2 linked regions of the Homo sapiens genome follow. The protein of the gene in region 1 interacts with the protein of each later gene in a biochemical or structural test. Each region holds a gene or a part of one and is shown on either strand. Other genes may lie near its edges.

The links.
Region 2: the proteins of RNF34 (region 1) and RUBCN form a complex in vitro, tested with the Homo sapiens proteins (one study listed by BioGRID).

The regions. Positions count from the first base shown.
Region 1 is NC_000012.12:121,395,205-121,410,117, reverse strand, and holds the start of RNF34 (E3 ubiquitin-protein ligase RNF34), read right to left. Parts: upstream 10,001-14,913; 5' UTR 9,906-10,000; coding exon 9,900-9,905; intron 8,080-9,899; exon of another isoform or gene 8,023-8,079; intron 7,377-8,022; exon of another isoform or gene 7,320-7,376; coding exon of another isoform or gene 7,311-7,319; intron 5,270-7,310; exon of another isoform or gene 5,005-5,269; intron 1,658-5,004; exon of another isoform or gene 1,643-1,657; coding exon of another isoform or gene 1,409-1,642; intron 1-1,408. Other genes in the region: KDM2B (lysine-specific demethylase 2B), read left to right, coding at 1,409-1,642. UniProt on the Homo sapiens protein: E3 ubiquitin-protein ligase that regulates several biological processes through the ubiquitin-mediated proteasomal degradation of various target proteins.
Region 2 is NC_000003.12:197,730,893-197,746,183, reverse strand, and holds the start of RUBCN (run domain Beclin-1-interacting and cysteine-rich domain-containing protein), read left to right. Parts: upstream 1-9,279; 5' UTR 9,280-9,464; coding exon 9,465-9,529; intron 9,530-15,291.

The sequences.
Region 1 (14,913 bases):
CGATGGCACGATCTTGGCTCACCGCAACCTCTACCTCCCAGGTTCAACCGATTCTGCTGCCTCAGCCTCCTAGTAGCTGGGATTACAGGCATCTGCCACCATGCCCGGCTAATTTTGTATTTTTAGTAGAGGCAGGGTTTCTCCATGTTGGTCAGGCTGGTCTCGAACTCCTGACCTCAGATGATCCGCCCGCCTCGGCTTCCCAAAGTGCTGGGATTACAGGTATGAGCCACCACGCCTGGCCATGAACATAATTTCTTTACATTCATTTTAGCACTGAAGTGCCAGGTAACACCCACCCCCGCTGCCCTTCAGTGAAACAGGTGTTTTAGTCCTGTACCTTCGTAGCTGCTGTCAGTACTTCTTGCTAAGGAATTGCCTAGGGTTGTGAAACTGCCCTTAAGAGAATGGTTTTCAGCCTTGGCTGCATGTTGGACTCACCAGGCAAGTCTTTAAAAATACTGATTCCTGGGGTCCCAGGCCCAGAGGTTCTGATTTCACTGGTCTGTGGTGCAGCCTGGGCACCAGAATTTTTTTGAAAACTCCCTGGGTAATTCTGATATACAGGCCAGGTTAAAAGCTTAAGACCTGCTCAGTCAAAGGGAAGATGTCTTCTTCCTGCCTACACTGTTTCAGCTGGGACATCACCCTCCACAAATTCCTGAGTGGAAAGGGCTGTGGTTACTTTGGAAGCCTGTGGCCCTAGAGTTCTGGAACTAATGCCTCGGCAACATACTCCCCAAGACCTGTCTACATGTTTTTCTGTTGTGGGATATGTAGTATTTTGCATCCCACTTTGGTTTTACCCAATCCTTTAAGAAAGGGTCAGCTAAGTTTTGGCCAAGTGTTGTGGTCCATGCCTATAATCCCAGCAGTTTGGGAGGCCGAGGCCAGCAGGTCACCTGAGGACAGGAGTTTGAGACCAGCCTGGCCAACATGGTAAAACCCCGTCTCTACTAAAAATACAAAAATTAGCCGGGCATGGTGGTGCACGCCTGTGGTCCAAGCTACTCGAGAGGCTGAGGCAGGAGAATCGTTTGAACCTGGGAGGTGGAGGTTGCAGTGAGCAGATATCACGCCACTGTACCACTGCACTCCAGCCTGGGTGACCGAGCAAGACTCCATCTCAAAAAAAAAAAGAAAGGGTCACCTGAGTTTTTAACAATCTGATTCTTCAATGAATCCCTTTCCTTTTTACCACAGATTGGCCTGTAACTTTTGCTGGACTTTGGTGCTCTCCTTGATTTTATTTGCTCTTTGCCTTTGGGCCCCAACTTTTATTTCCCACCTTAACTCCTCTGCACGTTTTCTTGTGTGAAATCTCCCAATATGAGGAGAAAGTCAGTGATTTCTGGGTCTATCAAAAGCAGCCATTGTTCAAAGTGTTTTTGTCCTTCTTCACCTCCAGGATGAAGAATCCATCCAGAAGATAAATCCTTCCAAGCCTGGACTCCATCTACCTGGCTCTCCTTTAGTATGTTTCATCTTCCTGTACTTTCTCATAAATTTCAGAAATTTATTCTGCATGCCTCCTCAGGGCAAAGGCATCTCTACCTACAACTGTCACCTTGACACTCACCTAACAGTGCTTGAAGTGTCCTATACTGATCTTTCCCCTCTTAAATCTGTACACATTTTCTAGTTTTTATTTATTTTTATTTTTATTTTTATTTTTTAGACAGAGTTTCACTCTTGTTACCCAGGCTGGAGTGCGGTGGTATGATCTTGGCTCACTGCAACCTCTGCCTCTTGAGTTCAAGTGATTCTTGTGCCTCAGCCTCCCAAGTAGCTGGGATTACAAGTGCCTGCCATCACACCCTGGTAATTTTTTGTATTTTTAGTAGAGACGGGGTTTCACCATGTTGGCCAGGCTGGTCTCGAACTCCTGACCTCAGGTGATCTGCCTGCCTCAGCCTCCCAAAGTGTTGGGATTACAGGCGTGAGCCACCACACCTGGCCATTTATTTTTATTTTTTTAGAGACGGGGTCTTGATATGCTGCCCAGGCTGATCTCAAACTCCAGGGCTCAAGGGATCCTTCTGCTTCAGCCTCCCAAATCACTGGGATTACAGGCATGAGCTACCACGCTTGGCCCACATTTTCTGTTATGACTTGACAGAACCTATAAAAGCAATTGGAGAACTATTTAAAAGACAATTTCCCCAAGGGTTTATTGAATCTGAGCTCTTACAGTGGAGAGGGGGACAAGGGATGGGGGGAACATATGCCAATCTATTTTCTGAGCTCTTCACACTCTGCCTCTGTTATATTTCCTTGGAACCCAGTTACCATATCCGGTAGGGTCATAACCAACAAGGATCCCTCTTCTGCACCCTCCTTTTAAAAGCTTTAGAGACCTAAGTTCATGTTCTTTCCTGTTCCATTTCTGTCTTCCCTATACTTTAAGATCTTCCTCCAGTTAAATTAGCCTGTATTCCTTTATTTTTCTTTTATTCATTCATTGCTTCCATACTGATAGTAAGATTGAAGCATCTTCTACAAACCACTCCATTTCCTCCTAGATTTTGAGAAAACTCAATTCCTGGAAAGACAGCATACTAGGCGTAGCCCTTGGGCTTCCGAATTTGCAGTCAGTTCACTGAGTTGTTGTATACTAGGCATATGCCTTTGGCTTCTGCATTTGCAGTCAATTCACTGAGTTGTTGTATACTAGGCATACCCCCACCTCTGGCTTCTGACAGTATACTAGGCATACCCTTTTGGCTTCTGAATTTGCAGTCAATTCACTGGCCTCAATTCCAAAGTGGTGCCTTCTTTATGGAAGGGTCACCATCCATTATTTGTTCATTGGGGGAAAAAAACCCTACAGTTACTCCTCCGTGAATAAAGCCCAAAGCCAGATCTCTGAAAAGTCTGGAACTTTCAAAATGCAAGCCATGATCTGGGCTTTCATGACCTACTTGGGGACCTTAGTTGGCAGCAAAACTCCATGGGTTATACCACATGCATCCAAGTGGTATGTAAGAAGTATAACCCTTTTTCTAACAGTTTAGAAAGAACAATAATCTGGGGGGAGGGGGAAGGAGGGAGGAAAGGAACAAGGGGTGAAAAACTAACTGTTGGGTACTGTGTTCACTACCTGCTGGCGGGACCAACTGTACCCCAAACTTTAGCGTCACTCAATATACCCATGTAACAAGTCTGTACGTGTACCCCCAAATCTAAAAGTTGAAATTATATTTTTAAAAAAGAACGATAATCGTGAAGATAGCTAAATTTCCTCTCTTGACCATGAATGTAGTTTAAAACAACATAGAGAATAAGAGAATGAGGCAACTGTCTGCCTATGCCTAGCACAAAACTCCAAGCTCAGAGAATTCACCTGTGTTTGGAGTTTATTTTCTAGTCATCAGTGATTACTAAAAATAAATGACTTGTTCTTGATAGTCTAATCCCTTTCCTACCCACTCTCTTAAGCCAAAGCTGCTCTCAGTAGAGCCACCATAGGACCATGGTCTGCCTGGCTTATATCAGTTAAAAACCAGGTATCGTATTTAAAAACTTAACACCAGCCCGGCGCGGTGGCTCACGCCTGTAATCCTAGCACTTTGGGAGGCTGAAGTGGGCGGATTGCTTGAGCTCAGGAGTTCGAGACCAGCGTGGGCAACGTGGTGAAACGCCATCTCTACTGAAATACAAAAAATTAGTCAGGCGTGGTGGCAAGTGCCTGTAGTCCCAGCCACTGGGGAGGTTGAGGCACAAGAATCACTTGAAATGGGAGGCGGAGGCTGCAGTGAGCTGAGATCACGCCACTGCACTCCAGCCTGGGCGACACAGCAAGAGTCTGTCTCAAACAACAACAACAACAACAACTTACACATTCCATAATAAGAAATCAAATTCTAAAACCTGCCTGGACTGCCTCAGACACCTAGATATCCTCATGTCATTCTGGTATCCAATGCCAGTTCTCCTCTTTTCTTCAAAGACAGTGCACCAAGATTTTAGGGAGCCAGTAACAGTACCTTTTTTCCACATCCAATTTGGAGCTAATTAAGAAATAAGACAGGCCGGGCACGGTGGCTCATGTAATCCCAGCACTTTGGGAGGCCGAGGCAGGCAGATCACAAGGTCAGGAGATCGAGACCATCCTGGCTAACATGGTGAAACCCCGTCTCTACTAAAAATACAAAAAATTAGCTGGACGTGGTAGCAGGCACTTGTAGTCCCAGCTACTCAGGAGGCTGAGGCAGGAGAATGGCGTGAACCTGGGAGGCAGAGCTTGCAGTGAGCCGAGATTGCACCACTGCACTCCAGCCTGGGCAACAGAGCAAGACTCCGTCTCAAGAAAAAAAAAAAAGAAATAAGACAGAGGCCGGACACGGTGGCTCACGCCTGTGATCCCAGCACTTTGGGAGGCCGAGGCAGGAGGATCATCTGAGGTCAGGAGTTCCAGACCAGCCTGGTCAACATGGTGAAACCCCGTCTCTACTAAAAATACAAAAATTAGCCAGGTATGGTGGTGGATGCCTGTAATCCTAGCTACTCAGAAGGGTGAGGCAGGAGAACTGCTTGAACCTGGGAGACGGAGGTTGCGGTAAGCAGAGATTGCACCACTGCACTCCAGCCTAGGTGACAGAGCAAGACCCTGTCTCAAAAAGAAAAAAAAAGCAAGAAGACAAATGGAAATTAAAATGTTTGTTTTTACTGATAGCATCAACTGGAGAACAGAACCTTAGCTCTGTAGCCAAGTCTGGATAATATACAGCTGACCAAGAGCAGCTTACCAGCTAGTTGAGTGGAGACCAGAACTCCATCTTCACTACAGGAAGACAAATGTGAGAAGGTCCCAGAAAGTACTGAGCCAAGCATGTCAGTTCCTTCACTGAAACTCCTCAATATTCAAGTCCCTCTTTTTCCTCCCATAGCAGAGACTGACAGTGTTTCTCCCATACTGTTCCCTCCCCAAAAATGAATTAGAAGCCCCCTCCCCTCTGTAGGAGCAAAGGAGAGGAAGCAAATGGGAGGGGAAAGAATACAAACCTAAATAATCTGCGTAAGAGTAGGAATGACAGTTTCCAGCCAATAAGGTTATAAGGACTCTCTCAGGTTCCTCAGTCAGAGTCAAACAATATAAGCCCATGAAACATCATTACAGTCAACAAAAGCAAGAGGAAAGGTGTTCTGTTTCTTTGCAAGAGCAGCAGCCCAGCTCTCTTTCTGGCACAGTGCCAGGATTTTCAAATGGCCTCAAGGTTCAGCTGTCTTTGCTTCTGTGTGTGTATAATCTAATATGTTTTCAGAATCCCTGTGGGGAGAAAATACTTCAAAATGCTCAATTTAAAGAATTCACAAATTTACCACAAATTTTCAACCCTAAACTTTTAATGATTCCATTAAATATATTATCAACCAGCCAGACTAGAACGAAGAATCAGAAAAGCTATGGTAGTTTCCATGAAGATTAAATGACAGGCTGGGCGCAGTAGCTCACACCTCTAATCCCAGCACTTTAGGAGGCCAGAATCACTTGAGGTCAGGAGTTCAAGACCAGCCTAGCCAAGATGGTGAAACCCGGTCTCTACTAAAAATACCAAAAAAAATTAGCTGGGTGTGGTGGTGCACAACTGTAGTCCCAGCTACACAGGAGGCTGAGGCAGGAGAATCACTTGAGGCGGAGACTGCAGTAAGCTGAGATGGTGCCACCGCACTCCAGCCTGGGCAACAAAGAGAGACTCCATCTCAAAAAAAAAAAAAAAAAAAAAAAAAGATTAAATGACAGCCAGACACAAGAGAAGTATAGGGGGAGAGTGGGAAAAGAAAGTTTATGAGTATGAAAACAGACAACTAGGCCAGGTGCCATGGCTCAAGCCTGTAATCCTAGCAGTTTGGGAGGCCAAGGCAAGTGGACTGCCTGAGCTCAGGAGTTTGGGACCAGCCTGGGCAACATTGTGAAACTCCGTCTCTACTAAATACGAAGAAAAAAAAAAAAAATTAGCCGGGCATGGCAGCTACTTGGGAAGCTGAGGCAGGAGAACTGTTTGAACCCGAGAGGCAGAGGTTGCAGTGAGCTGAGATCGTGCCACTGCACTCCAGCCTGGCGACAGAGTGAGATTCCATCTCAAAAAAAAAAAAAAGAAACAGAAAACTAAATGATCTAAGTCATTCACTTTTTATTAAACTAGGTAAATAGCAAGGTAATAATAATGCCATAGACTCTTCTCGTAAGAGTCTATCTTGCTTGCCAAAACTCTAATATGTTACTACACAGTCATTCACTTTTTATTAAACTAGGTAAATAGCAATGTAATAATAAACCCATAGACTCTTCTCATAAGCGTCTACCTTGCTTGCCATAACTCTAAGTTAAATATATTATTTACACAGTTATTTTAAGGATGAACCTAGAAGTTTTAAATTCAAAAATAATTGTCTCAGATGCTACATGAATCTACAAGGACCAAGGAGCGATACTGTTCTTCCATCAATGAAAGCTTCCTCAGAGAACTCACCCACTATATGTCCAGGGTTTGTTTCAAACTCTGGACAACCTTCAGTTTGCTAAAACTCAATGTCCTGTGTTAAACGACAGGAAAAAGATGTATTAAATCTTAGCAACGGTGATATAAAATAATCGGTTTTACAGTTTAATCTTGGTTAGGTTAAACTTTCCTACATAACTAAAAGCAAAGCAGAAAAAACAGTTGATAAAAAAGCAAAATCTTTATCCTTTTTTTTTTTTGTTTTGGTTTTTTTTTTTGGAGACAGAGTCTTGCTCTGTTGCCCAGGCTGGAGTGCAGTGGCGCAATCTTGGCTCACTGCAAACTCTGCCTCCCGGGTTCACGCCATTCTCCTGCCTCAGCCTCCAGAGTAGCTGGGACTACAGGCGCCCGCCACCACATCCAGCTAATTTTTTGTATTTTTAGTAGAGACAGGGTTTCACTGTGTTAGCCAGGATGGTCTCAACCTCCTGACCTTGTGATCTGCCTGCCTCGGCCTCCCAAAGTGCTGGGACTACAGGCGTGAGCCACCGCGCCCGGCCTCTTTATCCTATTTAGAGCCATTTGAGAAACATATGCTCCTTAGAATGTGAAAGGATTTCTTATCAAAACTGCTGCTTCAACTGAAATACAATATGCAGGGACCTAACTCTTTCTTAGTGACCAAATATCCGACCATATACCACAAAGGAAGGAATTCTACATCCTAAATTATTTCTCTCATACCATTTGGACATTAAGCAGGTTGCAAAAACAGATGATGAACTCTAAAATGTAATACTTTTAGACAAGACATTGGCCAAACTGATCGATTATTACAATAACATGTGCTATAGATACAAATGTTACCTTCCTCATGCTTGGGTTTTTGTTTTCTTTTAACAGTATACTTGATCCTTAGTACCACTCCCCCACCTTTCAGAGAAAAAAAAAGGAAAAGGAATTACATTCAGTAGATTACTTTCTCCTTGATATCTCATTTTGAGCTTGGAAGAACCCAGATTAGCACAATTAATGGTGAGATCAATATAAATAAGGAAAAATGGGAAAGAGGATTAAATCAAATTAACACAGGGCACCAATTTGGATTTTTTTTTTTAATCCCTTATAGGAAGTTGATTGGATGTTACTGCAAGGTTAAAAAGTTACTTGAGTCTGAGAGGTAAGACCTATTTCAAAACATCAGTTTCTAAACCAAACCAAACCAAACCAAACCAAAACGCCAAAGGGAGAAAGTAAATACCCATTCCGTACATATACTAAAACCAGCTGCTCCAGGTTTGAGTGAACATGTACTTATCCATATAATTGCTTAGCTTTTCTTGTTTATTTTTAACTGCTTAACTTTTTTTTTCCTTTTTTTCTTTTTAAAATAATTTTTAATCGAGACAGGGTTTTGCTATGTTGGCCAAGCTGTTCTCGAACTCCTGACCTCAAGTGATCCATCTGCCTTGGCCTCCCAAAGTGCTGGGATTATAGGCGTGAGCTATTGCACCCGGCCAGGTATACTTGCTTAGCTTTTAATGTAATTTTAATTCCACAGAAAGAAGTATTTCCTTACATGAACATTCACATGTTAGCATTCCATGACATCAGGAATCAGTCTCTGCCCAGAAATCTACAGATGAGCATACCCACAATTAAACAATTTCAATATAAATCAACATTAAGTTAAATAATAAACATTTAACAGCCCAAATCCTCAATGGTGTAAATCCAGTTTCACAAAAACAAAAGCATCATTTATAACTGTCATCTGGCACAGGCTGATGTCTATTCAGGTCCATATTTTGCTTCTGAAAATACGTATCTTTTCTATAATTTCAATTGCCACCAAACTTTGTTTCTAAAATTTCATCTTAGAAAGTAGTACCTTCCACTTCAATTCAAAACACACGTCTGTTTTCAAAGAACTTGTTTAAAAATTTCAACACTGGACCTGTCTCTAATTCTTTCCTTCGATAGCTAGTTCCTTAATGGGCCACAAATTTAATATTAATAAAGATACTGATTCTTCGAGGCATTATATATAAAGATCCCTGCTTTGTTTTTGGATCTTAACACAGCAGAGGGTGGTTTTCAGGAAATAAAGCTACTTCTAGATACTTTAATAGATATTTCAAGCTGTAATAATATTTTATAACTAAACTGGAAAGTTAAAAATAAGCTTTTACAATATCCTCATACTTCAAGGCACAGTTCCAAAGTTACCTATTCCAAAAATATTCCTTGCTTTCTGTAGCCAGAAGTATCCTTTCTGGCTCCTGTGTTTTGTCCCTGCCTTTTTTTTTTTTTTTTTTTTGATACCTATAGCCTTCTGCCTTGTAATATGGTTACTTACAAATAACTCTTCTTTTGAATGGTAAACTGCCTTCCTAAGGGATGAGACTGTATTTTGAATTACTTCTCTTCACCATGTCTCCCTCTTGGCTAACGCACAGAAAACGTTCAACAAAACATGTGCTGAATTTCTGTGACCAGCTGACACTCTTTTTCAATCTTCTATAGTAAATCTTTGACGCTTTATGGAGACAGCGTTAATCTAGCAGCTCACCTGCTAGATTACCCACCCCCAGCACACCTCTGCACTGAGATTAACGAAACCATCTAGGTCTGAAAGTTATCATCACCTTATGACTCATCCCACTTGGTTTGAGTTCGGCAAATGAATCAATACCCTGAACTGACTGCTGTTCACAAAGCTCTTCAGAACTCTCAGTGATCGGGTTGAGAATCATCTCTCAGAAGTAGGCCGGAAACCCCGCTCCCCTTTCCCCTTTTCTTCAACTTCTCATCAGTAATGCTCCCACGCTCTCACTCCCACCTTGGAGAACTCAAGCTGCCAAATTCCTTGCTGCGTTTACCTAGTGGCGATGGAGGCACATCCAGCCTTCTCTAGTTCGCGGCCCCGACGTGCAGCCTACGAAGCACCCCTTCCGGGTGGCATCCCCACCCTGAGAGTTCTTTAACCCGTTAGCCTGGCCCTAGCCTCACCACCCCCTGCACCCCTCCTGTTCTCCTCGGTCCCACGATGTCCCCAACACTTGGGTTAGTTCAAGGACTCGGGGCGGGAAAGGGCACGCCGCGCGCCAAGGGACCGAGGCTCAGGCGAGCCCTGGCGGCTCTGCCTCAGGCCCCCGAGGAGGCGCACAGGGCCCGGCGCAGAGAGGGGCCCACCCGGCGCGAACGCTAGGGACGCCCGGCTTCTCCCCACCGCTCGGGTCGCTGACGGGGGTGGCACTGGAGGAGCTCGAGAGGGTCCGGCAGCCTGCCCTGGCTCGGTTGGGGCACCTGAAGCCGGGCAAGCGACCCCCCTCAGCGCAGCTCTCCGAGATGACGACTAGGTAACCGCTAAGGCGGAAAGAAAGGAGGCGCTTCAGGTGCCCTGGCAGGATAGGATTGGCGAGGAGGGTCTGTCCGGCTCCACCGGCCCCTCACCTTCATGGCCGCGACCGCCTCAGCTCGGCCGGCTCTACCAGGAAACTCAGCACCATAGCAGCTCCTCACACTGCCGACCTCCTTCCCTCTGGGCGGTGATTACCGCGCCCCGGGAGGCGACCGAGCGTCCGGACGTAAGGGGCGTGGTCACGCTCGCCGCGTGCCCCGGTAAAAGCGCAGAGCGGCGGCCACGACGACCAATAGGAAGCCGACTTTCGGGAGGCCGGTCACCAGAGCCAATGAAGCGACAGGGATTGGGCGGGGCCTCTGGCGTTCCTCCTGGCTGGGAGTGCGCGGGGAGGATTCTTTTCCGCCCCGAGCGAAGACCTGCGGACCTGGGCGTGGCGGAAGGCGCGCTGCGGCGCTGCTTTCTCGGTTGGGTGTTTGAAATGGGAGATAGCGTCCCTGAGGAAGCTGCTGCGGCTTTCTGGGCTAGGTGGTCAAGTTTCCGGGGAGGGGAGCGCGGGAAGGGCCGTGGTGAATTTGAACACGCCGGTTGGCTCGAAGGCCTTTGTTATGACCGTCAGAGCAGGGCCTCAGATTTCCTTCCCAGACGTTCCCGCGTTCATGCTCGGTGATGACCTCGGGGCTCCTCACTCGTGGGTCCGGTAAGGAGCGGCAGCTGCACTCGCTAGGACGCGGCCTTTAAAAACAAGACTTATTGAAAACACTTAGAAAACCAAGGGCTCTCAAATCCCAAGGGCTCTTTGAAAAGCTGTATTCAAAATAACCAAAATCGTAGCATAATAAAAGAATTTGCTCGAGTCTTGGAATTGCCTTTGGACAGAGAAACTGAGGTTGTAAATTAAGGTATCGATTTCTTCAGCTGTACTGGATGACAGTTTATTTTCCTACACCTTTTTTTTATTTTTGACAAGGTCTTGCTCTTGCCCAGGCTGGAGTGCAATAGTGTGATCTCGGCTCACTGCAACCTCCGTCTCCCGGGTTCAAAGGATTCTCCTGCCTCAGCCTCCCTAGTAGCTGGGACTTCGTGCGCCCGCCCCACACCCGGCTAATTTTTTCTATTTTTAGTAGAGACTGGTTTTCACTGTGTTGGCCAGGCTGGTCTAGAACTCCTGGCCTCAGGTGAGCCGCCCACCTCGGCCTTCCAAAGTGCTGAGATTAGCCACCGGGCCCAGCCGATTTTCCTACACTTTTTAATCTCACCTCTAACTTAACCAGTATTTAAGATTTTAAACATAAAAAAGTCAGTTCGCTCTTCATGAGGACCTAAGACTGTTCTGTTATTTATATACATTATAGATTTGCTTCGACAAGTTGTGCTATATTAGATTAAAACACACGGAGAGAGAGAGAGTGCGTGGCAGGCCACTTCCTTAGACTGAAATAATGCATCAGAGTATGTATTTCTCTTGCTTCAAGTGCTGCTCAGATAATGTCACTTCTTATCCATAATAGTCCTAGGTTTTTTTTGGAAAAATGTACAGAAAGCCTTTCATTCACGATGTAGGACGCAGCTGAGCTTCATTGGAAGAGAAAGTATTAATTAATTCTCCTAATGATCTAGACACAAAGCAACTCAATAAAAATGTTCTTGGGGTACAAAGCCATGGTTGTCCCTCATTAGAAAAGGCCTGGCAGGTCTACCTCCAGAGTTAATAAGCACATGAAAGATGCTCAACATCATTAACTATCAAGGAAATGCACATCAAATCCATGGATACCGCTGTGCGCCTGCAAGGATGGGTAACATTAAAAAGAAAGAAAATAGATGGTGAGGATGTGGAGAATTTGGAATCTTCATACATGAATGGTGGGAATGTAAAATGATGCAGCTGCTATGAAAATGCCTGACAATTCTTAAAAAAAAAAATTTTTTTTTTTTTGAGACGGAGTCTCGCTCTGTCGCCCAGGCTGGAGTGCAATGGCGCGATTTCTGCTCACTGCAAGCTCCGTCTCCTGGGTTCACGCCATTCTCCTGCCTCAGCCTCCCAAGTAGCTGGGACTACAGGCGCCCGCCACCGCGCCCGGCTAGTTTTTTGTATTTTTAGTAGAGACGGGTTTCACCGTGTTAGCCAGGATGGTCTCGATCTCCTGACCTCGTGATCCGCCCACCTCGGCCTCCCAAAGTGCTGGGATTACAGGCGTGAGCCACCGCGCCCGGCCCAAAAATGTTAAAACATACAGAGTTACCATAAGACCCAGAAATTCCACTCCTAGGTGTATACCCGAGAGAAATGAAAACCTAGGTCCACAGAAAAACGTACATGCTAATGGTTCTTAGCAGCATTATTCATAATAGTCAAAAAGTAAAAACAACCCAAATGTCCATTATCTGAGAAATGGTTAAAGGAAATGTGGTCTCTCTATGCAGTGGAATATTATTAGACCAAAAAAGGAATGAAGTACTGATACATACTGCAACATGGATGAACCTTGAAAACATCATGCGGCTGGCTGAGTACAGTGACTCACTCCTGTAGTCCTAAGGCTTCAGGAGGCGGAGGCGGGCGGATCACATGAGGTCAGGTGTTCGAGACCAGCCTGGCCAACGTGGTGAAACCCTATCTCTACTAAAAATACAAAAAAAAAAAAAAAAAAAAATAGCCGGATGTGGCGACGCACGCCTGTAATCCCAGCTACTCGGGAGCCAGAGGTGGGAGAATCTCTTGAACCCAGGAGGTTGAGGCTGCGGTGAGCCAAAATTGCGCCACTGCACTCCAGCCTGAGCGACAGAGCAAGGCCCTGTCTCAAAAAAAAAAAAAAAAAGAAAAGAAAAGAAAAGAAAAAGAAAATAATAATGCTAAGTGAAAAAAGCTAGATACAAAAAGATTATATATTGTATGATTCCATTTACAGGAAATGTCCAAAATAAGCCAATCCATAGAGATAGAAAGTAGAGTAGTGATTAAGGTCTCTGAAGGAGGAGGGGGGAAATGGAGTGACTGCTACTAGACACAGGTTTCTTTTGGGGTAATGAAAACATTCTAGGAGGCTGGGCGCGGTGGCTCACGCCTGTAATCCCAGCACTTTGGGAGGCCAAGGCGGGCGGATCACGAGGTCAGGAGATCCAGACAACGGTGAAGCCCCATCTCTACTAAAAAATACAAAAAATTAGCCGGGCGCGGTGGCGGGCGCCTGTAGTCCCAGCTACTTGGGAGGCTGAGGCAGGAGAATGGCGTGAACCCGGGAGGCAGAGTTTGTAGTGAGCCGAGATCACGCCACTGCACTCCAGCCTGGGTGACAGAGCAAGACTCTGTCTCAAAAAACAAAACAAAACAAAACAAAACATTCTAGGCCGGGTGTGATTGCTCATGGCTGTAATCTGAGCACTTTGGGAGGCTGAGACGGGAGGATCACCTGAACCCGGGAGTTCGAGACCAGCCTGGGCAACATAAGGAGATCCCATCTCTACAAAACATAAAAACAAAAATTAACTGGGTATCGTGGTGCACACCTGTAGTCCCAGCTACTCGGGAGGCTGAGGTAGGAGGATCACTTGTGCCCAGGAGGTCGAGGCTGCAGTGAGCCACTGTACTCCAGCCTGGGTGACAAAGCGAGACCCTGCTCAAAAAAAAAAAAAAAAAAAGGAAAAGAAAACGTTCTAAAATTAGCTATGTGAATGGTTGTACAGCTCTGTGAGTATACTAAAAACTACTAAATTGTATAATTTAAACGGGTGTATTATATGGTATGTGAATTATATCTCAATAAAGCTGTTAATATTGAGGAACACAAAAAGAAGAGTTAATGCAGCTGGAAAGTGGCCACAGAAGGACAATGAAAACAACAAAGGCTAGGGAGAAACTTAAGTATCAGGGGAAAATTTAAAACAGTGCAATACTTGGGAAGACTTGTCTTATTTTGTCCCCAGCACACAGATCTGTACCTAGCATAAGCAAGCTCCCAGTAAATTGTGTTTGGTTTTTTGTTGTTGCTGTTGTTTTTGAGAGAGTCTCCCTCTGTCACCCAGGCTGGAGTGCGGTGGTACAATCTCTGCTCACTGCAAGCTCTGCCTCTCAGGTTCAAGTGATTCTTCTACCTCAGCCTCCCGAGTATCTGGGATGACAGGTGCATGCCACACATCCGGGTAACTTTTTTATTTTTAGGAGAGATGAGGTTTCACCATGTTGGCCAGGCTGGTCTCAAACTCCTGACCTCAAGTGATCTGCCCACTTTGGCCTCCCAAAGTGTTGGGATTACAGGCGTGAGCCACCGTGCCCAGCTGAATTGTATTTTTTTTTTTTTTTTTGAGACGGAGTCTCGCTCTGTCGCCTAGGCTAGAGTGCAGTGACGCGATCTTGGCTCATTGCAACCTCTACCTCCCAGGTTCAAGTGATTCTCATGACTCAGCCTCCCGAGTAGTAGCTGGGGTTACAGGTGTGCACCACCATGCCCAGCTAATTTTTGTATTTTTAGTAGAGGGGTTTCACCATTTTGCCCAGGCTGGTCTCCAAGTCCTAGCCTCAAGAGATCCCCCTGCCTCAGCCTCCCAAAGTGTTGGGATTACAGGCATGAGCCACCACACCCACCCATCAATAAAAGTTTGAGTGAATACTTTTTTTTCTGGAAGGTGGAGAAGGAAAATGATTTAAAAAAAAAAAACATAAGGGAGTAAATAGGTTACACATGAGTTTACAATGCCTACCTACCTGAAGTTGGGACCTTCTGAAGTTGAGAGAGATTTGTGCTTAAATATCACTCTTTTTTCAATGAAAGAGATGCATTTTGTGATCATAGTTTTTTCTTTGTTTCAAATTTTATATAATGACCCTCTTTTTTTTTTTTTTTTTTTTTTTTTGAGATGGAGTCTTGCTCTGTCGCCCAGGCTGGAGTGCAGTGATGCAATCTCAGCTCACTGCAAGCTCCACCTCCGGGGTTCACGCCATTCTCCTGCCTCAGCCTCCTGGGTAGCTGGGACTACAGGCGCCCACCACCACGCCAGGCTAATTTTTTGTATTTTTAGTAGAGACAGGGTTTCACTGTGTTAGCCAGGATGGTCTCGATCTCCTGACCTCGTGATCCGCCAGTCTCAGCCTCCCAGAGTCCTGGG
Region 2 (15,291 bases), on another chromosome or scaffold:
AAACTTTATACTTAGTCATATTTTCTGAATCTCATTATTGAAGGTTGACATTTGTTTAACTGAAATTCAGGTTTAACTGGGAGTCTTTTATTTTATTTGCTAAATCTGGCAACCTTCTCAACCTCATACTTTTCTTTCTTTCTTTCCTTTTTTGAGACAGAGTCTCACTCTGTTGCCCAGGCTGGAGTGCAGTGGCATGATCTCACTGCAACCTCCGCCTCCCGGGTTTAAGCTATTCTTTTCCTCAACCTCCCCTATAGCTGAGATTACAGGTGCATGGCACCACGCCCAGCTAATTTTTGTATTTTTAGTGGAGACAGCATTTCACTATGTTGGCCAGGCTGGTCTCGAACTCCTGACCTCAGGTGATCCACCCGACTCAGACTCCCAAAGTGCTGGCATTACAGGTGTGAGCCACCGCGCCCAGCTCAACCTCATAGTTTTCTGTTAACACTTTCTGGCTCCTTTTTCATAATGTGCACAGAAATCTATGTTTCTTCAAAGGTAGTAAACTCTTACACACTTCACCCCTTAACTTTTTATCAGTTTGATTTGCCTTTTTTTTTTTGAGATGGATTTTCACTCTTTTTGCCCAGGCTGGAGTGCAGTGGCATGATCTCACCTCACCACAACCTCTGCCTCCCGGATTCAAGAAATTCTCCTGCCTTAGCCTCCCAAGTAGCTGGGATTTCAGGCATGCGCCACCATGCTGAGCTAATTTTGTATTTTTAGTAGAGACAGTGTTTCACCATGTTGGTCAGGCTGGTCTCGAACTCCCGACCTCAGGTAATCCGCCCGCCTCAGCCTCCCAAAGTGCTGGGATTACAGGTGTGAGCCACTGCACCTGGCTTGATTTGCCTTTTAAATCCCCCTTTTCTTTTCTTTCTTTTTTTTTTTTTGAGACAGCATCTCTCTCTGTTGCCCAGGCTGGAGTGCAATGGCGTGATCTCGGCTCACTGCAACCTCCGCCTCCCGGGTTCAAGCAATTCTCCTGCCTCAGCCTCCTGAGTAGCTGGGACTACAGGTGCGTGCCACCACGCCTGGCTAAATTTTATATTTTTAATAGAGATGGGGTTTCACCATGTTGGCCAGGATGGTCTCGATCTCTTGACTTTGTGATCTGCCCACCTCGGCCTCCCAAAGTGCTGGGATTACAGGTGTGAAGCCACCGTGCCCAGCCTAAATCCCCCTTTTCTTAGTTTTGAGATATATTTGATAATAAAAGACACATACTGAAAGTATGCAGTTTATACAGGTGTACAGGATATATACCTGTGAAAACACTACGATAATCTGAATAAATATTATTATATATTCATTATTTTCTAAAGTTTTCTTGCTCACCTTTGTAATCCTTACCCCCCACCTACTATCTAGGCAACTACTGATCTGTTTTCTGTTGCTGTAGATTAATTTGCATTTTCTAGTATTTTTAATAAATGGAATCATACAGTATATACTTTTTAACTGGATTATTTCACATAGCATAACTGTTTTTTATTTGTATGCCTTTTCTTTTTCTTGCCTTATTGCACTGACTAGGGACTCTAGTATCATGTTTAATTGGAGTAGTGAAAGTGAACATCTTTGCCTTGTTCCCAACCCCAGAGGGAAAGCGTTCAGTCTTTCAACATTAAGTATGATGCTAATTTTTAAAAATGCCTTTTTTTAGGTTGAGGAAGTTCCCTTCTACTCCTGATTTGCTGAGAGTTAATCATGAATAAATGCTGAGTTTTATCTGATGCTTTTTCTGTATCTAGAGATTATCAAAAGGTTTTTCTTGCAAAATGTATTAATATGGCGAATTACATTGGCTATCAAATTTTGAATGTTGATTTTGTTTTTGAATGTTGATGTTCCAAATATTGCATTTTTGGGATAAACCTACTTGGTCATGGTATATTATCCTTTTTACATGTTGTTGGATTTGACTTGCTAATATTTTGCCAAGAATTTTGTCTTTTCATGAGTGACACTGGTATGTAATTTCCTTTTCTTGTAATTCATTTGTCTGTTTCTTATGTTAACTCTTTTGCTTTTCAAAAGAGGATATCTAGAAATCATATTGATGTAATATGTATTATACTGGTATATTAAAGAAGTATGGTATAATTTATATTATATGATATATAGATAATATGTATTAGGTATAATAACTAATTATTAGCTAATATTAGTTATTTTTTATTTATTTATTTTTTAGACAGAGTCTCACTCTGTCACCCAGGCTGGAGTCCAGTGGCGCAATCTTGACTCACTGCAACCTCCGCCTCCCGGGTTCAAGCAATTCTCCTGCCTCAGCCTCCCAAGTAGCTGGGATTACAGGCGCTCGCCACCACGCCCGGCTAATTTTTGTATTTTTAGTAGAGACGGGGTTTCACCATGTTGGTCAGGCTGGTCTTGAACTCCTGACCTCGTGATCCACCCACCTCGGCCTCCCAAAGTTTTGGGATTACAGGCGTGAGCCACCGCGCCTGGCCAATATTAGTTATTAATAAACAATAGCTAATTCGTAGCACCCTTAAACTACTTATATATACACTACAGGTTTTCTTCTCTTTTCTGTTCAATTTTTTCCATTCTACCTGTCTGCTGCTGTCTTCTGCTGCAGTAGCTTTTCTTTGCCACTTTGCTGTAGCTTTCTGTCCCTCTTCTGTGTTGCCCTTTTCCTTTGTTGTAAACTTTTCCTGTTCTAGTCTTCTGCCTTTTAATCTCAAAATTTGTTTGTTCATTTATTCGTTCATTCAACAGAGTTCGAGGTCCTCCTATGTGCAAGACACTGTGCTAGAGGCTGGGGATACCGCAGAGAACATGACAGACGGGGTTGCAGGCATAGCTGCTGCCCTTAAGAAACTCAAGACACTGTGCTAGAGGCTGGGGATACCGCAGAGAACATGACAGACGGGGTGGCAGGCATAGCTGCTGCCCTTAAGAAACTCAAGACACTGTGCTAGAGGCTGGGGATACTGCAGAGAACATGACAGACGGGGTTGCAGGCATAGCTGCTGCCCTTAAGAAACTCAAGAGCTCCGGAGGAGCCTGCCCGCCTCAGCTAGCAAGTTTAAAGGAGCACTACTGGCCACTAAGTCCCTGAGCATCAGTTCTGTGTGACTAGGGAATCTGCTCTGGGTGGACAAGGGAACTTGAAGGGGAATTCTTCCTGGACTCAGGGGTGGGACCTCTCAGCTTATTAGGCCTTGCCCTCCCTAGGGAAGGCAGGAGTCTTGACCACCAGGGGTTCTAGATTGACTCACTGAATGACCAACTGTGGCATTTTCCAAAGCTAAACAAATTTACATAAAGTGCAAAATTCCACCCATTTACATAAAACTGTTTGTTTTTCGAAGATATCCTCAATTTGTACTGGATGGATTTGTAGTCCAGGAAGGCTCAGGGAGCCAGGATTCTTGGGTCGCGGGTCTTCAGGCATTCCTCCTTCTCCCAGGCTTCTTCTCTCTGTGCCCCGCAGGTTCCCTGCTCTGGGATGAGGAGCCCAGGCTGGGGGAGACTAACTAAAGCACAGCGTCTTGCACATAGCAGCCACTCAAGCTCTGACCCTCTTCATGCAGTGGAGGGTCCCTTCTGTGCAGCTTTACTCAGCGAGAGTTGCAGGAAGCTGGGGCAGGGACAAAACGAACATTCGTCAACTATGTTAAGGATTTGCTCAGTCTAGAAATAAGATTTTTTTTTTTTGAGACAGTCTCACTTTGTCACCCAGGCTGGAGTGCAGTGGTGGGATCTCGGCTCACTGAAACCTCCGCTTCCCAGGTTCAGGTGATTCTCCTGCCTCAGCCTCCCAAGTGGCTGGGATTACAGGCGTCCGCCACCAAGCCCAGCTGATTTTTGTATTTTTAGTAGAGATGGGGTTTCACCATGCTGGCCAGGCTGGCCTCGAACTTCTGACCTCAAGCGATCCGCCCACCTCGGCCTCCTAAAGTGCTGCTATTACAGGCGTGAGCCACTGCACTCAGCTTAGAAATAAGATTTTTAAAATTTTCATTTTAACATTAAAAATTGCACATTTTCTTTGGGAGGCCGAGGTGGGCAGATCATGAGGTCAGGAGATCGAAACCATCCTGGCTAACACAGTGAAACCCCGTCTCTACTAAAAATACAAAAAATTAGCCAGGCGGCAGCGGGCGCCCGTAATTTTAGCTACTCAGGAGGCTGAGGCAGGAGAATCGCTTGAACCTGGGAGGCAGAGGTTGCAGTGAGCCAAGATTGCGCCACTGCACTCCAGCCTGGGTGACAAAGCGAGACTCCGTCTCAAAAAAAAAGAAAAAGCACACATTTTTATCCACCGTTCGTGGCTGGCAAGTGTTCCTATATAGTTTTTTGGGGTTTTTTTTTTTTGAGATGGAGTCTTGCTCTGTTGCAGTGGTGCAATCTCTGGAGTGCAGTGGTGCGATCTCAGCTCACTGCAATGTCCACCTCCTGGGTTCAAGGGATTCTCCTGCCTCAGCCTCCCAGGTAGCTGGGATTACAGGCGCCCACCACCATGCCTGGCGAATTTTTAGTAGAGACAGGATTTCACCATGTTAGCCAGGCTGTTCTTGAACTCCTGACCTCAAGTGATCCTCCCACCTCGGCCTCCCAAGGTGCTGGGATTACAGGCATGAGCCACTGTGCCCAGCCAGTTCCTATATAATTGAATAAATGAACCACTACTAAGTGCTTAGAGGGGATGGAAATGTTGCTATAAAGACAGAATAAAAGCTAAGTAATTAAAACTTGGCAAAATTCTTCAAAAGCTTTTAAAATCATCTCATCAGATGAACTACTATAAGCTTTATATATGCCTAACAGAAAAAGAATTTTGGTAAATCAGTAAATTTGGTAAAGTCAGTGAATTGGTCATTTGGCAAAATTGGCTTAAAAGACTTTTAGAAATGCTACCTATGGGGAAAACATAAATTAATTTTAAACTGTCTTTAAAGTTAATCATTACAAGATTAAAAATTTCCATGTGAAACACTAAAATTTTTGTTATATTTAGCAGGATACAGTCATAAGAAAACAAAACCATACTAAGATCATTGACTATTTTTTTAGGTCCCCATGAAAGCAGAACCTTGACTATTTTTTAAACTTGCAAATGTAGAGAAAAGTTGCAAAAATAGTGCAATGAATACCCATATATCCTCTACTTCGCCAATTAATGTTTTGCCACATTTGCTTTCTCTCTGTATAGAGGTATTAGTTGTTGTTAGACAATTTGAGAGAAAGTTGCAGGAATTATGACTCTTTAGAATCTATTTCTAAGGGCTGTGTGCAGTGGCTCACACGTGTAATCCCAGCACTTTGGGAGGCTGAGGTGGGCAGGTCACTTGAGGTCAGAAGTTCGAGACCAGCCTGGCCAACATGATGAAACCCCGTCTCTACTAAAAATATAAAAACTAACTGGGCGTGGTGTTGGGCACCTGTAATCCCAGCTACTCGGGAGGCTGAGGCAGGAGAATTGCTTGAACCCAGGAGGCACAGGTTGCAGTGAGCTGAGATTGTGCCACTGCACTCCAGCCTGGGCAACACAGCAAGACTCTGTCTCAAAAAAAAAAGAAAGAGAATATATTTCTAGGGATATTCCTTAACATAACCATGCTAAAATTACCAAGTTTAGAAAATTTAACATTGATGCTGTACTATTATCCAATTATGGTTCATGTTCAAATTTTGCCAATTATACTACAAAATTTCTTTTTCTTTTTCTTTTTTTTTAAGATGGAGTCTTGCCTTGTTGCCCAGGATGGAGTGCAATGGCATGACCTCAGCTCACTGCAACCTCCGCCTCCCAGGTTAAAGAGATTCTCCTGGCTCAGCCTCCCGAGTAGCTGGGATTACAGGCGTCTGCCACCATTCCCAGCTAATTTTTTGTATTTTGTATTTTCAGTGGATCCATGATCCAGCCTGAGTGACAGAGCGAGACTCCATCTCAAAAGAAAAAAAAACAAAAGAAGGGGTTCAGGATTATGAGGGAAAGTAGAGGGATGGGATAGGTAACGCATGGCTAGTGCAGATTATTGTCATGTTTATTAATGGCTTTAAAGAAAATCCAGTACATGTAACTTGAACTTGGACATATGAGAAAAAGCCTGTTTTCCAGCCTTTTTGCTACAATTTTAGTTTTTGGATTTCTTTTTTTTCTCCCCAAGACAGTCTCACTCTGTCACCCAGGGTGGAGTGCAGTGGTACAATCTCAGCTCACTGCAACCTCTACCTCACGGGTTCAAACGATTCTCATGCCTCAGCCACCCAAGTAGCTGGGATTACAGGCGTGTGCCACTACACCCGACTATTTTTTCTTTGTATTTTTAGTAGAGACAGAGTTTCACTATGTTGGCCAGGCTGGTTTCGAACTCCTGGTGTCAAGTGACCCGCCTGCCTGGGCCTCCCAGTGTTGAGATTACAGGCGTGAGCCACCGCTTCTGGCCCCTAGGATTTCCTGATAAAGCTGATTGCCTTTTTTTTTGAAACGGAGTCTCCCTCTGTCGCCCAGGTCTAGCTCTGTCTTCCAGGCTGGAGTGCAGTGGCGTGATCTCTGCTCACTGCAAGCTCCGCCTCCCGGGTTCATCACGCCATTCTCCTGCCTCAGCCTCCGGAGTAGCTGGGACTACAGGCGCCCGCCACCACGCCCGGCTAATTTTTTGTTGTATTTTTAGTAGAGACGGGGTTTCACCGTGTCAGCCAGGATAGTCTCCATCTCCTGACCTCGTGATCTGCCCGCCTTGACCTCCCAAAGTGCTGGGATTACAGGCATGAGCCACCACGCCCGGCCTTTTTTTTTTTTTCTTTTTTCAGACGAAGTCTTGCTCTTATCGCCCAGGCTGGAGTGCAGTAGCACGATCTCGGCTCACTGCAAGCCCTGCCTCCTGGGTTCAAGCCATTCTCCTGCCTCAGCCTCCTGAGTAGCTGGGATTACAGGCGTCTGCCACCATGCCCGGCTAATTTTTTTGTATTTTTTAGTACGCCTGTAATCCCAGCACTTTGGGAGGCCGAAGCCGGCGGATCACCTGAGGTCGGGAGTTCAAGACCGGCCTGACCAACATGGAGAAACCTTGTCCCTACTAAAAAATACAAAATTAGCCGGGCGTGGTGGCGGATGCCTGTAATCCCAGCTGCTCAGGAGGCTGAGGCAGGAGAATCGCTTGAACCCGATCGCGCCATTGCACTCCAGTCTAGCCAACAAGAGTGAAACTCTGTCTCAAAAATAAATAAATAAATAATATAGTGTTAATTTGGGATTATACTGTATGCCAAAAAATAAAGTTCATACATTTATAGAACTAGAAGTAAGGCCAGGTATGGTGCCTCATGCCTGTAATCCCAATACTTTTTGGGTGACTGAGGCAGGAGGACTGCTTGAGCCCAGGAATTTGAGACCAGCTTAGGCAGCACAGTGAGACCCTGTCTCTACCAAAAATTAAAAAAAAAAAAACAAATTAGCTGGGCATAGTGGCACTGCCTGTGGTCCCAGCTACTTGGGAAGCTGAGGTGAGAGGATCCGCTTGAGGAGGTTGAGGCTGCAGTGAACTGTGGCAGCGCTACTGCACCCCAGCCTGGGTGACAGAGCAAGACTGCGTCTCCAAAAGAGAAGAAAGTCACAGAAGGAAGAGAAATCCCAATGAGTAATATTGCCCCTTTCTTAAAGAAGTATAATCGTTTAGTAGGAAAATGAGAAAGTTTGAAAGAGAGTATTTTTTTAACCTAAATGAAATCATAAATGGCTTCAAGAGGCTCTTTCATTTCATTTTTAATTGCCAAAACACTTTTGTCAAGTTTGAAAATACCTAAAAGCCATATATTATTTTAATATAGAGTCATTAGTTTTTCACGGAGTTATTCTTGATCGCTCTTTCTCCCTCACTTGCCACAGTCAGTCCTTTATAGAGTAGTGCTGATTCTGTTGCCTTCACATTGCTGTAATCTGAGCCTCCTTGTTCTCTTCAACCGCTGCTGTAGTTTAAGCCTGGGTTTGCAAACTAGCAACTCAAGGGCCACCTTCAGCCTACAGACAAGCTGTGTTTGGCCTGTGCAAAGTTGAAAGTTTAAAAAATTTGTTGCCAACGTTTAAAAATTTGGAAGTAGTGCTTAAAAATGCAGATCCTAGCTTCTTTTAAAAAATCAAAATATCATAGCTAGGTGTGGTGGCTCGCACCTGTAGTCCCAGCTATTCAGGAGGCTGAGGAAGGAGGACTGCTTGAGCCCAGGAGTTCCAGGCTGCAGGGAGCTATGATTGCGCCACTGCACCCCAGCCTGGGCGACAGAGAGAGACCCCGTCTTTGAAAAAGAAAAAAGAGAAACCAGAGTATCTGGCAACCCTAGGCCCACGTTTCTTTCAACTGGTTCGCTTCACTTCTTAGCATTACTTGGTTATCCCCCATAAGGATGACCAGTCTCCTATCTAGCCTTCCACCGTTACCTCAATATAGTATTATATCTGCCCCATCTCCTGTCCACATTGTCAAAAGTGGCTTTCTCATCAGATTCGATCAAATCACTTCTTGATTTGCATATGCTTGATTTGCTGATTGTTTTCAGGATAAAATCCAAACTCCTTAAAATGGCATTTCATGATCTGGTTTCCCCACACCAGAATGCCCACACCATGCTGCTGCTCACTCCTTCCCAGCTCTGGCTACCCAGCACCTGCAGTTCCCAAGCCAGCACTTCCTTCCTTGTATCTGCCGTGTTGCTCTCTCCACCTTCTCTTCTTTCTCCTGGCTAACCCGTACTCAGCCTTGAAAACTCTGCGTTGACATCCATCTTCCGAGAGCCCCCAGAAGCCTTTCTCTCCTGCTCTTTTATGATCCCAAAGCAACCTGTGCTCTTGTTTGTGAGCGCTTCATTTAAATGCTCGAGGTCTCCAAACACCACCAGCGGACATTAAGCCAGGGCGGGCTGAGTGGGGTTAATCGTACCGGGATTAGATTAGCGTTATTGCCTAGTCTACATCTCGGACTGAGTTCGGTCCCCAGCGTGTAATGTCACGGGGGTGAATAAGGATACGCCCCGGCACGGATTCCTGAGACCAAGGTCCCCCGCCGCTTGCAAGCCGGCCCAGCCAACCACCGGGTGCGTAGTAATCCACGAGCGCGGCCTGGGATTGGAGGGCGCGGCCTGCGGGAGCGGCCTGGGATTGGAGGGCGCGGCTTGCGGGAGCGGCCTGCCGTTGGAGGGGCGCGGTCTGCGAGCGCGGCCTGGGATTGGAGGACGCGTCCTGCGGGAGCGGCCTAGCCTCGGAGTGCTCGCCGGGGGCTGTAGTCCCCGGAGCCGGAAGTGGGGGTGGCCGGGATAGAAGCCGCAGCCCAGGCGGCGGTCCCTCCCGCTGTCGCCGCCCGGGTGTAGCGCATCACCCGGAGCCCACCGGCCGCAGGTGCCTCCTCCGGCCCCAGGGGGCCCCGGGAGCCCTGAAGGGCGAAGCGGCAGGGACGCCTCTCTTGGGCGAAGAGGCGGCCTCACCGCCCCGGATGCGGCCGGAGGGCGCGGGAATGGAGCTCGGAGGCGGCGAGGAGCGCCTGCCTGAGGAGAGCAGGTGGGCTGGGAGCCGCCGCGGAGTCGGGGCAGCGACAGGCGCCGGAGCCCCGGGAGGCTTGGGAGGGCGCGGGGTCACGGAGAGAAGGGCCGGGCGCGACGAGTCTTGAGGACGACGGCTGCGGAGGACTTGTTTGGGAAGCATTTCGCAGAGGAAGGACGGGCGGGGCGGGGATGGGACGAAGGAACCGGCTTAGGGTGAGGAGGGTGGGTGGGATTTGCGGAGGGCAAGGGCAGCAGAGGAGGGTGAAGCTCAGATCCAAGACTGCTGGAGAGGAGGTGGCAGCTGAGAGACTGGGCGAAGAGGCCAGAGGGGTGCAGTGAGGTTTTACAGGCCAGAGTCTATAGACAGGGGCAGGGCACCACCCGGACTGAAACTTGCCGTGACAGCAAGTGGGGCCAACGCGAAGAGGATGTGAGAATTCCTGGGAGCAGAGGTGAAGCGTTATGAGTGGCCTCGGAAGAAGCTTAGGCAGAGATGAGCATGGGGATGAAGGCGAGGAGAGCCTGGGGAGAAAGTGAGCGAGTGTCATGGCAGTGCGGTGGGGCGGGGACTGCTAATGAGACCAGAAACTCTGCACTTTGTCATTGCCGAATCCCTGTCAGAGAGTGGCAGGACCTCTGTGCCATTTCCTTTTCGTCTTCAAACCTGTCCCTTTTTCCTCACAATGCAAACTAAGCAAGTTCACATTTATTTATATGGAACCATGTCAGAAAGCTCATATCTTCTAGAAATTGGGGGATTTAAAATATAAAAACTACTTTGGACCGGGTGCGGTGCCTCACACCTGTAATTCCAGCACCTTGGGGGAGGCTGAGGCGGGTCGCTTGAGTCCAGGAGTTTGAGACCAGCCTGGGTAACCTAGGGAGATCCCCGTCTCTACAAAAATACAAAAATTAGCTCGGCGTGGTGGTGCTCACCTGTGGTGCCAGCTACTCGGGAGGCTGAGGCGAGAGGATCACTTGAGTCCAATAAGTCGAGGCTGCATTGAGCCGAGATCGCACCACTACACTCCAGCCTGGGTGACAGAGGAAGACCCTGTCTTCAAAAAACAAAAAGCCAAAGAAACCCCGAACTACTTTGACTAAATGATGAATCGGAGTCTGTAGAGATGCCTTCCATATTTAGGGTTTGCTTCATTAATAACTCTGGTCTTAATCTTTTTTAAAGAGGCTGGAATGCTGACAGGCGAGAGCAGGAATGTGGCTTAAGGGAGTCATACTTGACATTTATTATTTTATTTTTATTTTATTTTTTGAGACACAGCCTCACCCTGTCCCCCAGGCTGAGCGCAGTGCCGTGAACACGGCTCACTGCAGCCTCCAACTCTTGGGCTCAAGCGATTATACTAGCTCAGCTTCCCAAGTAGCTGGGGATATAGGTGCCAGCTACCACATCTGGCTACTTTAAAAAACTTTTTTGTAGAGACAGGGTCTCACCATATTGCCCAGGCTGGTCTCTAACTCCTGGGCTCAAGCAATTCTCCCCCGCCACGTCGGCCTCCCAAAGTGCTGGAATTAACAGGTGTGAGCCACCAGGCCTGACCTCACTTGACATTTAGAAACAGTTTCAGATATAATGATGGTCTCAGGAGCAGCTGGGATCCAAAAACTAGAAGCAGAATATTTACCTCTGAGAAAATATCAACAAGGGAAGATTTATGAGATGTTCCTGGGTGAAGACTTGCTATTTTTAAGGGTGACTCTACTTTTATGTGCAAAGTGGCCTGTTGAACAAAACCTGGACTGACAGGACTTTGGGGCTCCTGCCTGAGATCTGAGAATGATTTGTGCTAAGTGAAACTGAACATCTTACTTCCCTTTTCCATGTTTCAGTTTCTGCTTTGCCTATTTGACTATTTATTCTTCCTGCAGATGTCTGTGACGTGCTTCGTGTGAAAGGTCCCATGTAAATTCTAAACACGTTTTAGGATTGTTTTGATTTCCCTCTACCACTTCATGTGAGGGAGGCTGGGTTAGTTATTTTTTTAATGTATGTAACAAATGCTATTTACCACATGCCAGGAATTGTTTTAAGGTATTAAGATATGAATACTGCGTTAACTTCTTTAATCCCTATAACTATTGTATGTGGTCGGTACTACTGTTATTGCTGTGTCACAGATGAGAAAGCTGAGAAATGGACAGGGTAAGTAACTTGCCAAGGTTGTACAGCGAATCCCTGGCAGAACTGGATTCAAACCCAGGCAGTTCGGCACCAGAGTCTGCGCTTTTTTTTTTTTTTCTTTTTTTAGACAGGGTCTCACTATGTTGCCTAGGCTGGTCTCAAACTCCTGGGCTCAAGATATTCTCCAGCCTCGGCCTCTCAAAAGTGCTGAGGTTACAGGCATGAGCGACCATGCCGGCCCAAGAGACTGCACTTTTTTTTTTTTTTTTTTGAGATAGAGTCTTGCTCTGTCGCCAAGGCTGGAGTGCAGTGGCACCGTCTTGCTTCACTACAACCTCTGCCTCCCAGGTTCAAACAATTCTCCTGCCTCAGCCTCCCAAGTAGCTGGGATTACAGGTGCCCGCCACCACGCCCAGCTAATTTTTTGTATTTTTAGTAGAGACGGGGTTTCGCCATGTTGGCCAGGCTGGTCTCAAACTCCTGACCTCAGAGGATCTACCAGCCTCCGCCTCCCAAAGTGCTGGGATTACAAGCGTGAACCACCGTGCCCGGCCCGAGTCTGTACTTTTAATACTCACCCTATGCTGCCTCTCACTATGCTAATAGTAACAACGGAAGTATAAGATAGTGAATAAATTTCACAGCATTCTGTGCCTGTCATTCAGGCCAGTAGGATAGCTCCTTTGCAGAATCTTTTCCCGTCTTTTATTCTTTTTATGATTGCCTCTTAACCAAAAAACTTTAATCAAAACTTAATTTTAGTAGTGGGGTTATCCTCACAAAGTCACTCCCGTCATTGTTATAGGCATACTGTGTTGGCGGCTGATTAATTCAGAATGCGTTGTTTAATGAGGCTTCATGGTACTGATGGCCTCCTTAGCTCCAGATACACAACTGGTAAATACACATTCCTTGTGCCTATTAATTGAGGCTTTGTGACTGGGTTACTGCAAACATAACCTTTCTATGGCCAATGAAATACCCAGTTCAGAAACAGTCTTCTTGATGAGATAGCATCATTTTTATTTATTTATTTATATATTTTAAAGATAGGGTCTCACTGTGTCACTCAGGCTGGAGTACAATAGTGCAATCGTAGCTCACTGCAGCCTCAAACTCCTGGGCTCAGGTGATCTTCCCACCTCAGCCTCCTCAGTAGCTAGGACTACAGGTGTGTGCCACCACTCCCAGCTAATTTTTAATTTTTTCAGATTTTTTGTAGTGACAGAGTCTCACCATGTTGCCTAGGCCAGTCTCAAACTCCTGGCCTCAAGGGATCTTGCTGCCTTGGCCTCCCAGAGCACTGGGATTACAAGCATGAGCCACTGTGCCCAGCCGGTAGTGTCATTTTAAAAATGAAGGATGAAACTTTTCAGTGTATTTTCCTTAAGTAGTTGATATAATGAAACGTGAATAAGCTTTAAAGTCAGACCTGCATTTGAATCCTAGTTCACGGATTAATTTGGCTTAACTTGATCAAGTTACTTTACGTAACCTGCCTGAGTAGGAAGAATAATGCTTTCCTGCCTGAGAAGTTCTGAGGATTCAATAAAACAATGTGCATAAAGCTCCTGAGAGCCTGATACGTAGGAAGTAGGAAAAATGTCGAATCCACCCCTTGCTAGTTTTTTTGAAATAAGGCGAGGGTCTCCCCCACAAGTGACTGTTTGCAAGGGTATCACTTGTTCTTCCTCTTTCAGTGGCTCCTTCATCCGAGTTGAACACATTGGGACCTAGAGTGTTGGCTTAGCTTCCCACTTCCCCGGTAGTGTGCTTAGGTGATGGGCTTCCCTATTGTTTTCCGTCTAGCTATCACTCCAGCCAGATGCTCTGGGGCTTAGGGATGATACTTCACTTTCCCTCCGTTTCCTAAATGCCAGTTATTTTGAGGTTGCCTGGTAAAACTACTACACTACACTGGGCACGGTGGCTCACGCCTGTAATCCCAACACTTTGGGAGGCCAAGGTGGGTGGATCACGAGGTCAGGAGATCGAGACCATCCTGGCTAACACAGTGAAACCCCGTCTCTACTAAAAATACAAAAAATTAGCCAGGCGTGGTGGCAGGCGCCTGTAGTCCCAGCTACTGGGGAGGTTGAGGCAGGAGAATGGCGTGAACCCGGGAGGCGGAGCTTGCAGTGAGCCGAGATCACGCCACTGCACTCCAGCCTGGGAGACAGAGTGAGACTCGTCTCAAAAATACCCAAACTACTAGACTGGTAAACTGCTAAAGGAATGGTCTTTCTGGCATTGCTCTGTCTCCCTAGACCGCCTTGGCCATGCAGTGTACTGTCTCCCTAGACTGCCTTGGCCATGCAGTCTACTGCTGAGCTTGCAGCTCAGGTACATGTACTGCTCAGTGCTCCTGGCACCGTGATCCAGGTACAGTCAGAATTCAAGGAGTAAGATCCGTTTTAGCATCTCCAAACTAAGCTTATTCCACTGACCAAAACCTGCCCCTCCTCTGATCTCTGTTAATAGCATTTTCCACTCACTCAACATGCCAGAGCGTCAGAGTGACATTTGACATTTCGCTCTTCTCTATTTCCCATATGTAAGCAGTCACCAGGGTCTAAAATTCTGTTCCTAATTTTTCTTTTGAAGCCTTCTTTTTCTCTCCATTTCCAAATATAATGGCTTATAGTACTAAAAAATCTAGGGTGACTGGGAAGTGAGGAGCCACTCTGCCCGGCCAGCCGCCCTGTCCCGGAGGGAGGTGGGGGGGTCAGCCCCCCGCCCGGCCAGCCGCCCCATCCGGGAGGGAGGTGGGGGGGTCAGCCCCCCGCCCGGCCAGTCGCCCCATCCGGGAAGTGAGGGGCGCCTCTGCCCGGCTGCCCCTACTGGGAAGTGAGGAGCCCCTCTGCCCGGCCAGCCGCCCCGTCCGGGAGGGAGGTGGGGGGGTCAGGCCCCGCCCGGCCAGCCGCCCCATCCGGGAGGTGAGGGGCGCCTCTGCCCGGTCGCGCCTACTGGGAAGTGAGGAGCCCCTCTGCCCAGCCACCACCCCGTCTGGGAGGTGTACCCAACAGCTCATTGAGAACGGGCCATGATGACAATGGCGGTTTTGTAGAATAGAAACGGGGGAAAGGTGGGGAAAAGATTGAGAAATCGGATGGTTGCCGTGTCTGTGTGGAAAGAGGTAGACATGGGAGACTTTTCATTTTGTTCTGTACTAAGAAAAATTCTTCTGCCTTGGGATCCTGTTGATCGGTGACGTTACCCCCAACCCTGTGCTCTCTGAAACATGTGCTGTATCCACTCAGGGTTGAATGGATTGAGGGTGGTGCAAGATGTGCTTTGTTAAACAGATGCTTGAAGGCAGCATGCTCCTTAAGAGTCATCACCACTCCCTAATCTCAAGTACCCAGGGACACAAACACTGCGGAAGGCCGCAGGGTCCTCTGCCTAGGAAAACCGGAGACCTTTGTTCACTTGTTTATCTGCTGACCTTCCCTCCACTATTGTCCTGTGACCCTGCCAAATCCCCCTCTGCGAGAAACACCCAAGAATGATCAATAAAAACAAAAACAAAAACAAAAAACCTCTAGTTAACACATAATAATGCCCGCACTGAGCAGATGTTCACTAAGGTGTTGAATAAATAGTTGAAACTGTAAAAAAAAAAAAAAAAAAAAAAA